2 separate regions of the Homo sapiens genome follow, and region 1 is linked to region 2. The links come from fine-mapping of genetic effects on gene expression. A gene starts in region 2. The other region holds a variant in brackets. All regions are shown on one strand. Distances are between the middles of the regions.

Evidence for each region.
Region 1: its variant is fine-mapped to the expression of EIF2B1 in prefrontal cortex (GTEx, PIP above 0.99).

What each region holds. Positions count from the first base shown.
Region 1 is chr12:123,706,289-123,711,663 of GRCh38, reverse strand. TCTN2 (tectonic family member 2) reads right to left here. Exons shown (of 18, transcript NM_024809.5): 16 at 4,813-4,938; 17 at 4,591-4,679; 18 at 3,265-4,060. The coding sequence ends at 3,951. Among named protein-coding and RNA genes, the nearest start is that of ATP6V0A2, 3.4 kb to the left of the region's middle. The variant T/C (reference allele first, on the strand shown) is at 3,186.
Region 2 is chr12:123,630,905-123,636,279 of GRCh38, reverse strand. It overlaps EIF2B1 (eukaryotic translation initiation factor 2B subunit alpha), which reads left to right and starts at 2,594. Exons shown (of 9, transcript NM_001414.4): 1 at 2,594-2,735; 2 at 3,834-3,935. The coding sequence starts at 2,723. GTF2H3 (general transcription factor IIH subunit 3) reads right to left here and starts at 2,451. Exons shown (of 13, transcript NM_001516.5): 1 at 2,408-2,451. The coding sequence starts at 2,420. RefSeq lists an enhancer at 2,378-2,567.

The DNA.
Region 1 (5,375 bases), 75 kb before region 2:
AAGCGATCCTCCCACCTCAGCCTCTGGAGGAGCTGGGATTACAGACGCGCGCCATCACACCCGGCTAATTTGTTTTTAAAATGTTTATAGAGAAGGGGTTTCATCATGTTGGCCAGGCTGGTCTCGAACTCCTGAACTCAAGCAATCCTCCCGCCTTGGCCTCCCAAAGCGCTAGGATTACAGGCGTGATCCGCCGCCCGGAGGGATCCTAGGCTTCTTCGTGAAGTTGGAGTGTGCAGCCAGCATCCCAATCCAGTTTTCAAACATTTCCCACCGACCTCGCAAGACTCCTCCTGCTCAGTTGCAGTCTCCCCTTCCCGCCCGGCCTGGCCACCACAGGACAATTTTGTCTCGCTAAATTTGCCACCTCCAGGCTTGTCCTGTCGATGGAATCACACAGCACCCAGTGTGTGTTCCCCACACTGACCGGGAAGCAGTGGCCCCCCGCCCCAGGCCGCAACCTCACCGCTGTCCCAGTCGAGTCTCTGCTTACATATCCCCTTCCTTGAGACTGTCCCTGGAGTCACATCCTTGTTCTATTTCCTTCACTGCACCTGCCACCATCTGAAATTATCTTGTCTGTGTGTTAGTGCCAGTCTTCCCTGCTAGAATGGAAGCTCCACCAAGGTGGGGACATTGTTTCTGCCACTGTGGTATCTCCAAGCCCCAGCACATAGTAGCCACTCAATAAATAGTTCATGAATGCATACATAAATGTATAAACTTAAAAAAGTTAAAACCATAGACACTCCAGACCCCATTCTGCCAAACTGAGTTTTTTCCTTCTTTTAAGTACAAAAGGCGTCCTCACAAAGCCCACAAAATCAAGCTAAATTACCTGTCATTTGGAAGTTTTAAATTTATTTTCCATAAATACCTGAAATCCAAAGCTAGTTACACTAGGCTGGGTGCCCTGGCTCACTCCTGTAATCCCTGCACTTTGGGAGGCTGAGGCAGGTGGATCACTTGAGGTCAGGAGTTTGAGACCAGCCTGGCCAACATGGCAAAACCCCGTCTCTACTAAAAAAATATAAAAATTAGCTAGGCGTGGTGGTGGGCACCTGTAGTCCCAGCTACTCGGGAGGCTGAGGCAAGAGAATCGCTTGAACCTGGGAGGTGGAGCTTGCAGTGAGCTGAAATGGCATCCCTGGACTCTAGCCTGGGCAACAGAGTGACACTCTGTTTCAAAAGAAACAACAACAACAAAAAGATACAGTAAGAACTGTGAAGGTGAATTCAAAGGCTGAAGTTCAGACAATAATTGACTCAGACCCCAGCTCCGTCAGTCCAGTACTGACCCAGATTCCTGAGTCAGCCCTAGAGGGGTCGGGTGAAGGCCCAACACCACCACAGTACAGATGCTGAAATTCACGGTATTTCCATCATGCAGAAACTTAGGACCTCTGCAGTGACTAGCTCATCCCCCTATTTGAAAGTGGACTCAGGCCGGGCGCAGTGGCTCATGCCTGTAATCCCAGCACTTTGGGAGGCCGAGGCGGGTGGATCACGAGGTCAGGAGATCGAGACCATCCTGGCTAACACAGTGAAACTCCGTCTCTACTAAAAATACGAAAAATTAGCTGGGCATGGTGGTGGGTGCCTGTAGTCCCAGCTACTCAGGAGGCTGAGGCAGGAGAATGGCGTGAACTCGGGAGGCGGAGCTTGCAGTGAGCAAAGATCACGCCACTGCTCTCCAGCCTGGGCAATAGAGCAAGACTCCGTCTCAAAAAAAAAAAGAAAAAAGAAAATGGACTTAAGACTGGAGGAAAATTTGAAATTGCCCCTGGGCAGGAACTCTGCAGCGAAGATGAAACAGCACATTTTATGTGGTGCTGGGTATCAGCAGGCACTAGGAATTCGATCAAAAAGTATAAAAGGGAAAATAATTATTTTTCAAAATTAGGCTTAAATAACATAGAAAATCCATCTGAAACAACTAAGTTACCTGGCACACAAAGAAAACTTACAGGTGATGTGCCATGTGGCCACTGTAGGACCGTGGCTAAAAACATCTATTCCAGGGCTGGGCACAGCAGCTCATACCTATAATCCCAGCACTTTGGGAGGCTAAGGCAGGTAGATCACTTGAGCCTAAGAGTTCGAGACCAGCCTGGGTAACATAGGGAGACCCCCTTCTCTACAAAAAAAAAAAATACAAAAACTAGCCAGGTACAAGCCTGTGGTCCCAGCTACTTGGGAGGCTAAGGTGGGAGGATCACTTGAGCTCAGGAGGTCGAGGCTGCAGTGAGCCGTAATTGTGCCACTGCTCTCCAGCTCTCCAGCCTGGGTAACAGAGTAAGACCGAGTCTCAAAAAAAAAAAAAAAAAAAAAATCCATTCTCCCCACTGAGTGGGGTTGACTGTTCCCATGTGACGGCCCATGGGAGAAATTTGTCAAGACTCAGCTAGGAAAAACTGTCCTTCATTGATAACCAGTTAATTTTTAATGAATAGATTTCATAATTCCTGTATTAATGAATAGATTTCATAATTCCTATAGCTAATCATACTTGGGTTTTTGTAAACTGGGGTCTTGGTTGGGCATAGTGGCTCCTGCTGGTAATCCCAGCACTTTGGGAGGCTTAGGTGGTAGGATCGCTAAAGCCAGGAGTTTGAGACCAGGCTGGGCAACATAGCGAGACCCCCATCTACTAAAAAAAAAAAAAAAAAAAAAAAAAAAAAAAATAGCCAGGCGTGGTAGCTGTGTGCCACCTGTAGTCCCAGCTACTTGGGGGAGAATCGCTTGATCCCAGGTGTCTGAGTTTACAGTGAGCTATAATCGTGCCACTGCACTCCAGCCTGGGCAACAGAGGGAGAACCTGTCTCCAAAAAACAAATAAATAAATAATGAATTAGGGGCCTGCTTCTGCTAAAGGCAACCTCTGGCATGTATTTTAGGGCTTACATGTGCCCCTGGTTTTGTTTTACTTTTCTCTTATTATTTTCCTCCCGCAGCCCCCATATCTTTCCCCATCAGTGATTTTGTGTTTTTGTATTACATGCATTTTTAAGGATTTCTTAATCCTTTCTACGGAATATGGGAAACATCAATCAACACGAATGTATTAAAAACTAAAGAAAAGACTGATTCTCTCTGGTATAAATAAAACTCCTATGACTTTAACTAATTTGTGATAAGCTAAAATTTCTAACATTTTTGAGTTCTTCTCATGCATTTTACTCAGT[T/C]CAGGCCAGCGATGAGAATATTCATTCTGCATTGGATAGCTACATATATGAATTAAAGTCACAGGGCACTTAATAAAAATTTTCTACAAAAATAAGACATTTCATTTATTAAAATTTTATAGAGAAGCATACAAGACTACAACAAATCACTGAAGTCAAGGTCTAAAGTCTTTGAGAAGTCAGATGGACCGGACGCAGTGGCTCACGTCTGTGATCCCAGCACTTTGGGAGGCCGAGGTGGGCAGATCATCTGAGCTCAGGAGTTACAGACCACCCTGGGCAACAAGGCGAAACCCCGTCTTTACCAAAAATACAGCCAGGCATGGTGGAGCATCTGTGGTCCCAGCTACACCAGAGGCTGAGGTGGGAGGATTGCTTGGGAGGCAGAGATTGCAGTGAGCCGAGATTGTGCACTGCACTCCAGCCTGGGTGACAGAGACCCCGCCTCAAAAAAAAAAAAAAAAAAAAAAAGGCCGGGTGCGGTGGCTCATGCCTGTAATCTCAGCACTTTGGGAGGCCAAGATGGGCGGATCATGAGGTCAGGAGTTCGAGAGCAGCCTGGCCAATACGGTGGAACCCTGTCTCTACTAAAAATACAAAATTAGCCGGGCGTGGTGGTGCATGCCTGTAATCCCAGTTCTCCGGAGGCTGAGGCAGGAGAATCGCTTGAACCCAAGAGGAGGAGGTTGTGGTGAGCCGAGATCACTTCAGCCTGGGCAACAAGAGCAAAACTCCATCTCAAAAAAATAAAAGCCAGGTGGTTGTCTAACTATAGGCTTTGCATATTCTGGTCCAGGGGTTGCTGAGGAACAAGGCCAATGTGAGGAACAACAGCAACAGTAAGCCCTTAGCAACACACTGAGAATGCAGCTCCCCTGAAAAACAATGGACAAAATTCAACAGCAGTATTTCTTAACTCTTTTGATAACAGTGTAGGTATAGGCTGGGTGTGGTGGCTCACTCCTGTAATCCTAACACTTTGGGAGGCCAAGGAGGGCGGATCACTTGAGGCCAGTTCGAGACCAGCCTGGCCAGCACAGTGAAACCCCGTCTCTACTAAAAATACAAAAATAGCCAGGCATATTGGTGCTGTAATCCCAGCTACTCCAAAGGCTGAGGCACGAGAGTTGTCTGAACCCAGGAGGCAATGGTTGCAGTGAGCTGAGATTGTGCCACTGCACTCCAGCCAGGGTGTCAGAGCAAGACTCTCTAAAAAAAAAAACAGTGTAGGTAGAAATAAACTAAGCCAAAACAGTAATGGTGATCACTTCCAAGTGGCAATATTATCCGTACTTTTTTTTAAGTTTCTATATGTTTTATGCTTTCTGTAACATTTAGACATCATTTAAAAAATTTTTTTAAATTGACATAACATAATTGGTCATAGAAATCTGTTTCACCCTACCTTGATAATACTGAGTCCATGGATATAGAAGCTGCGGCCAACACACCTCATTTCTGTTGCAGTCATACTCTGTATAATTGATCTGGAATCTAGAAAACATTTTAGAGGGTTACAAAAACTACAAGTGAGAAGTATCAGAACTTGATTAAAGGAATAAACTTCCAATTTTCAAATATATATTTTTCTGCTTCCTAATGTCAACTAGGTGAGCAACTGGAGTACCTTGTCAGGGGGTGGGGTAACTGTGCAGGAATTTTAATAAACTGGACGGATGCACTGATAGGGAGAAGGTCGGCCTTGTGCTCACAGGTAAGCCCACACTGGTACTGCCAGTTCACTGAGGAGAACCTAGGAGGGAAAGATCACATGGTCAGCATAGCCACCATTCAGTTCTATTCCACCAAGAACAGCAGGTAACGGATGCAATCACAATATAACCTGAGGTTCTCCTAAGAAGTTTCGCATTCTACCTGGGCTGTTTTTTCTCAGTATTTGTCCATGGTCTTTGACCATTTCCACAGACAGATCCAAAGAGAAGAGAAACTCCTAATAACCCCTCATGGGCCTGTCGCCCAGCAACATCTGCCAGTCTTGTTGTCAGTCTCACTCCTCTCCAGCCAGTGCATTGTATACAGGTGCTATCAAAGGTACCTTTGTTCATCACCTGTTTTTCTCAAACAATATAATAATAAAAGCAGCAGCTAGCCACTTATTGAGGGCTTTCCACGTTCGAGGCACAGAGATAACTTGCTTGCAACACACCATCTCATGTTATCCTCAGAAGA
Region 2 (5,375 bases):
CTGCACTAAGCACCGGAATCTGCAATCCCAAAATCCCATTCCACCCTGACAACCACCCAGCAAAGGACATTTTCCTGCCATTTTTCATCAATTATAAGATGACCCCCACCCCTTGTTTTTTACATTGAATAGTTGTTGACATCTGGATGGTATCTTTATCATTAAGATTAGCAGCATTTTTTCTTTCTTAATGGTATATTAAATAAGGGCACATCTCATAATCAATATTATCTTAGATTAGCTGAAATATGATATATGGTATTCGTATTCTGCAAATGAAAGTAACTTGTCCTAAGTCACATATGGCCTGCTAACAAGTGGCAAGGCCAAAGCCCTGTTCTAAAGACAGATCTGCTTGACTATAAAGACTGTGGCTCTTCACTGCCCCACTGCCCACCTCTGACAACCCACAGCTCTCTCTTCTAATGACACTTAGCACTTACTATTTTATTTTACAGTTAGTTGTGCTTCTGATCTCTCGTCCCAGTCCTGCCCACTTAAGACTGTGGACTTCTTAAAAAATGATGGAATTTGCTAATCCTAGGATAAAATAATGTGTGTAAATCAGAACTGGTGTAGTGGCTCACGCCTGTAATCCCAACACTTTGGGAGGTCGAGGCAGGAAGATTGCTTCAGCCCAGGAGTTTGAGACCAGCCTGGGCAAAACAGTGAGACCTTATCTCTACCTTTTTTTTTTTTTTTTTTTTGCGACGGAGACTTGCTCTGTCGCCCAAGCTGGAGTGCAGTGGCACGATCTTGGCTCACTGCAACCTCTGCCTCCTGGGTTCAAGCAATTTTCCTGCCTCAGCCTCCTGAGTAGCTGGGATTATAGGTGTGCGCCACCTTGTCCGGTTAATTTTTTTGTATTTTGAGCAGAGACGGGGTTTCACCATGTTGGCCAGGCTGGTCTCGAACTCCCGACCTCAAGTGATCCACCCACCTTGGCCTTCCAAAATGCTGGGATTACAGGCGTGAGCCACTGTGCCCAGCCACTTTTTTTCTTTTTTAATAGAAAAACAAAACAAAAAAATGTGTAAATCACACAACAAAGCACCTAGGACAGAAGCACTTAATACAACTGTGTCTGCCAGACAGAAAAAGCGTTGCCTGTAAAGAAAGGTGTGCATCTATACACATGCAATGACCCTGTGAATTTCCTTCTTTAGTTCGCTACCTCATTTGTAGACAGGAGCAATGCCAGGCCTGCCTCCCTCACAGGGTTGTGGTATGGTTTCACATCAATTAAGAGAGGATGGACAATTATTACAGTTCCTGAAAGGACTCCCCTATCTCTATTCTTGCTCCCCACAGTCCATTTTCCACACAACAGCCACAGTGATCTTTTAAAATTGCAAACCAGATCATAACACTTTCTGGCTTAAAACTCTACAATGTCTTTGTATTGCACCTAAAAATAAAGGCCAACTTCTCTATCACGGCCAATAAGGCCCTGCATGACCTGAAACTGGCTGGTTCTCTGATCTCATCCCTCTAGCCTCCTTTTAAATCTTCAAGACATCTGACTCTGTATGTGGTAGTTTAATGTATGAATGAGTCTCCCCACCATCCTCTACCCGCAAGCTCTCCATTTCTCCCTTCTCAGTGTAACTTGGTGGCTCAATCTGCCACAGGGCCCATGCACTTAAAGTGCACTTCCCCCAGAACTTCACATAATCATTCAAGTCGGTTTCAATATCCTGCACTTTTCCTAGGCCCCTATCTAAAACAGCTCCTCCTCAATCCTAGTCACAATGTACTATTGTAACTAGGACCGTACTGTTACATCATCTTCATAGCTCTTTTCATCCTTTGAAAAATAATTTATTTTTTAATTTTTTATTGACGAGGTCATGCCCTGTCGGCCATGCTGGGTGCAGTACTGCCATAATAGCTCACTGAAGCCTCGAATTCCTGGGCTCAAGTGATTCTCCCGCCTCAGCCTCCCGCGTAGCTGGGACCACAGACACGCGCTACCACGCCCGGCTAATATTTCATTTTTTTTGTAGAGATGGGGTCTGGCTGTGTTGCCCAGGCAGGTCTCGAACTCCCGGCTTCAAGCGATTCTCCCTCCTCGGCCTCCCAAAGTGCTGGGATTACAGGCCTAATCCACCGGGGTGCGACCCGGCCGAAATTATTTTTATTTATTGTCATCTGTTTCACCCAGTAGACTGTAACCTCCACTAAGGCCCCTGTCTGTCACGATCTCTGCTAAAATCCAGAAAATAATGCCTGTACACAGGAGGCGATCCAAAACTATTTACTGAATGAATGACTGAATGCCTTGGCTACTCCTCTAAAGACCAAACGGATTCTATCCAGCCCAAAAGACACATTCCATCTGGCCAGTCGTAGCCGGACCGAGACAGCCGAGCCCCGGAGTCGAAGTCCCGCCCTGCAGGGTCCTCACCGTCTGAAACCATGGCTGTCCCAGCACCTCAGCGCAGAGCAAGTGGTGGTCAGGGGAGCGTCTCAAATCCTGCGCAGCCCAACGTCCGGCGCCGCCAAGTGACGCACGAGGTGCTGTGACTCGTGCCAGCCCCCTAATCTGCGGAAGTGGAGTGCGGGGAGTGCGCCGGAAGAGGGGTACGGAAGTGCGCCGGAAGTGGGGTGCGGAGGTGTGCAGCGCGCTGTCAGACTGGCTCGCAGGCGGCGCGGCCGGCGGACCCGTTCGAGACAGCGCGGGCGGCTCGGGTCCCCTGGGGCTCCGCAGCAGGAGGACGCCATGGACGACAAGGGTAAATCAAGACAGGCCAGGGCTGCTAGGCTACAGCAGCGCCGTTCAGGGGTCCCCCCAACCTCTCACATCCAGGCTGAGCTCCCGAAGAGATTTCTTTTGAATTTCAGGCTGCTCCGCTGGTTGTGTTTCCAGAGTCACAACTAAATCCCTCGCGCTGCTCTTGTTTTCAGGGATGCGCCCTGGCAGTATCTGCAGGCATCCCTCCCACACATACGCTCCTTCCCAGTGCCAGTCTCCTTCCTGCCTTGTTGGATCTGTCATTAAAATTAGAATGAATAAGGCATATTTGATGTGCTCATCTAGTATGGTTATTAAGTGAAAAACAAGGGCAAACTAATACACTTTTCATGTAAAGAAATAAAGGGGAGTGGGTGGAACTCCATGTATAATATTTGTAACATATATGTGTATGTGAATAGACATGTATTAGCATAGACTGTCTGGAGGGGTGCAGGAGAAATTGGCAAGATGGTTGACTCTGGGATCCTCTCAGATTTTAGGACCAAAGAGGCTGAAGAGAGAATGACTTTTCATCATCATTTACTCGGGCTTAATTTTTAGGCCTTGCACACCAGTAGCTTTTTTTTTTTTTTTTTTGAGACGGAGTCTCGCTCTGTCACCCAGGCTGGAGTGCAGTGGCGCAGTCTCGGCTCACTGCAAGCTCCGCCTCCCGGGTTCACGCCATTCTCCTGCCTCAGCCTCCCAAGTAGCTGGGACTACAGGCGCCCGCCACTACGCCCGGCTAATTTTTTGTATTTTTAGTAGAGACGGGGTTTCACCGTTTTAGCCGGGATGGTCTCGATCTCCTGACCTCGTGATCCGCCCGCCTCGGACTCCCAAAGTGCTGGGATTACAGGCGTGAGCCACCGCGCCCGGCCACCAGTAGCTTTTTCAAAATAAAAAAGAGCTCTTGCAAACAGCAAAGTGGTATTTTCTCTATTCCCATCAACATTTATTGCATCCCTGAAACCAAATACCCTAAAAAGAAAGTATTTTTTAAATTGTTTGCTTCTTAAAGTCAACAGTCATTAACAAGCTCTCTTGCCTTATAGGCTGCTAAATGAATTAGGTGAATCACTTTTTTCCCTTTTTCCAGAGTTAATTGAATACTTTAAGTCTCAGATGAAAGAAGATCCTGACATGGCCTCAGCAGTGGCTGCCATCCGGACGTTGCTGGAGTTCTTGAAGAGAGATAAAGGTATATAGAGAGTCATCTGTTAACACTCTGGGACTTAGGATAGTCTTTTTTTTCTTTTCTTTTTTTTTTTTTTTAAAGAGACGGAGCCTCACTCTGTCACCCAGGCTGGAGTGCAGTGGCGAGATCTTGGCTCACTGCAACCTCCGCCTCCTGGGTTCAAGCAATTCTCCTGCCTTGGCCTCCTGAGTAGCTGGGATTATAGGTGTGCACCACCTTGTCCGGCTAATTTTTTTGTATTTTAGAGACAGGGTTTCACCATGTTACCCAGGCTGGTCTCGAACTCCTGAGCTTAGGCAATCTGCCCGCTTTGGCCTCCCAAAGTGCTAGGATTACAGGTGTGAGCCACTGTGCCCGGCCGTTTGTTTTTTTTGAGACAGAGTTTTGCTCTTGTCTCCCAGGCTGGAGTGCAATGGCACAATCTCGGCTCACTGCAACCTCTGCCTCTCAAGTTCAAGCGATTCTCCTGCCTCAGCCTTCTGAGTAGCTGGGATTACAGGCATGCACCACCACGCCTGGCAAAATTTTTTTTTTTTTTTTTGAGACGGAGTCTCGCTCTGTCACCCGGGCTGGAGTGCAGTGGTGCCATCTTGGCTCACTGCAGGCTCCGCTTCCCAGGTTCATGCCATTCTCCTGCCTCAGCCTCCAGGTAGCTGGGACTACAGGCGCCCGCCACCATGCCTAGCTAATTTTTTGTATTTTTAGTAGAGACGGGGTTTCACTTTGTTAGCCAGAATGGTCTCGATCTCCTGACCTCGTGATCCGCCCATGTCGGCCTCCCAAAGTGCTGGGATTGCAGGCGTGAGCCACCGGGCCCGGCCAAATTTTTTTATTTTTAGTAGAGACAGGGTTTCACCATGTTGGCCACAGTGGTCTTAAACTCCTAGCCTCAGGTGATCCGTCCGCCTCGCCCTCCCAAAGTGCTGAGATTACAGGCGTGAGCCACCATGTTCGGCCAGGAAAGTCTTCTAATGACTCTTAGAAATGTAGAAAGTGAGAGATGCATGTTTGCCTGCATAAAGTAGTAATACAGCTCCAAGCTCAGCTTCTGCCTTCATTTCAGACCTTTCAATCTGGAGAGAGCTCTTACGTTGTCATGAAAAGGATCCCTTTCATAAGTGAAACAGACTTTGAATCGAGAGTGACTATGTTATATTGTGTTAACCATGATGCGTAAATTTCAGTAGCAGTTCAGCTTTATAAGTGTTTATTAGGCCTCCACCTTGTGCCAGATTCTGTACAGATGCTACAGGGAATATTCCAGAATAAATTCTGGTATTAGTATTATTTATTGTGATCCCCTAATTCAGCACCCTAAATGTAAGCATCTGGGTATAGCATGAAATCTTGTATAAGCAAAATAATAATGCAGCCTTTAATCTGAAGGGCTTGCCTAGAGACACATGTCTTTAAGGCAACCTCCAGTGTCTTCCCATTGTTCTT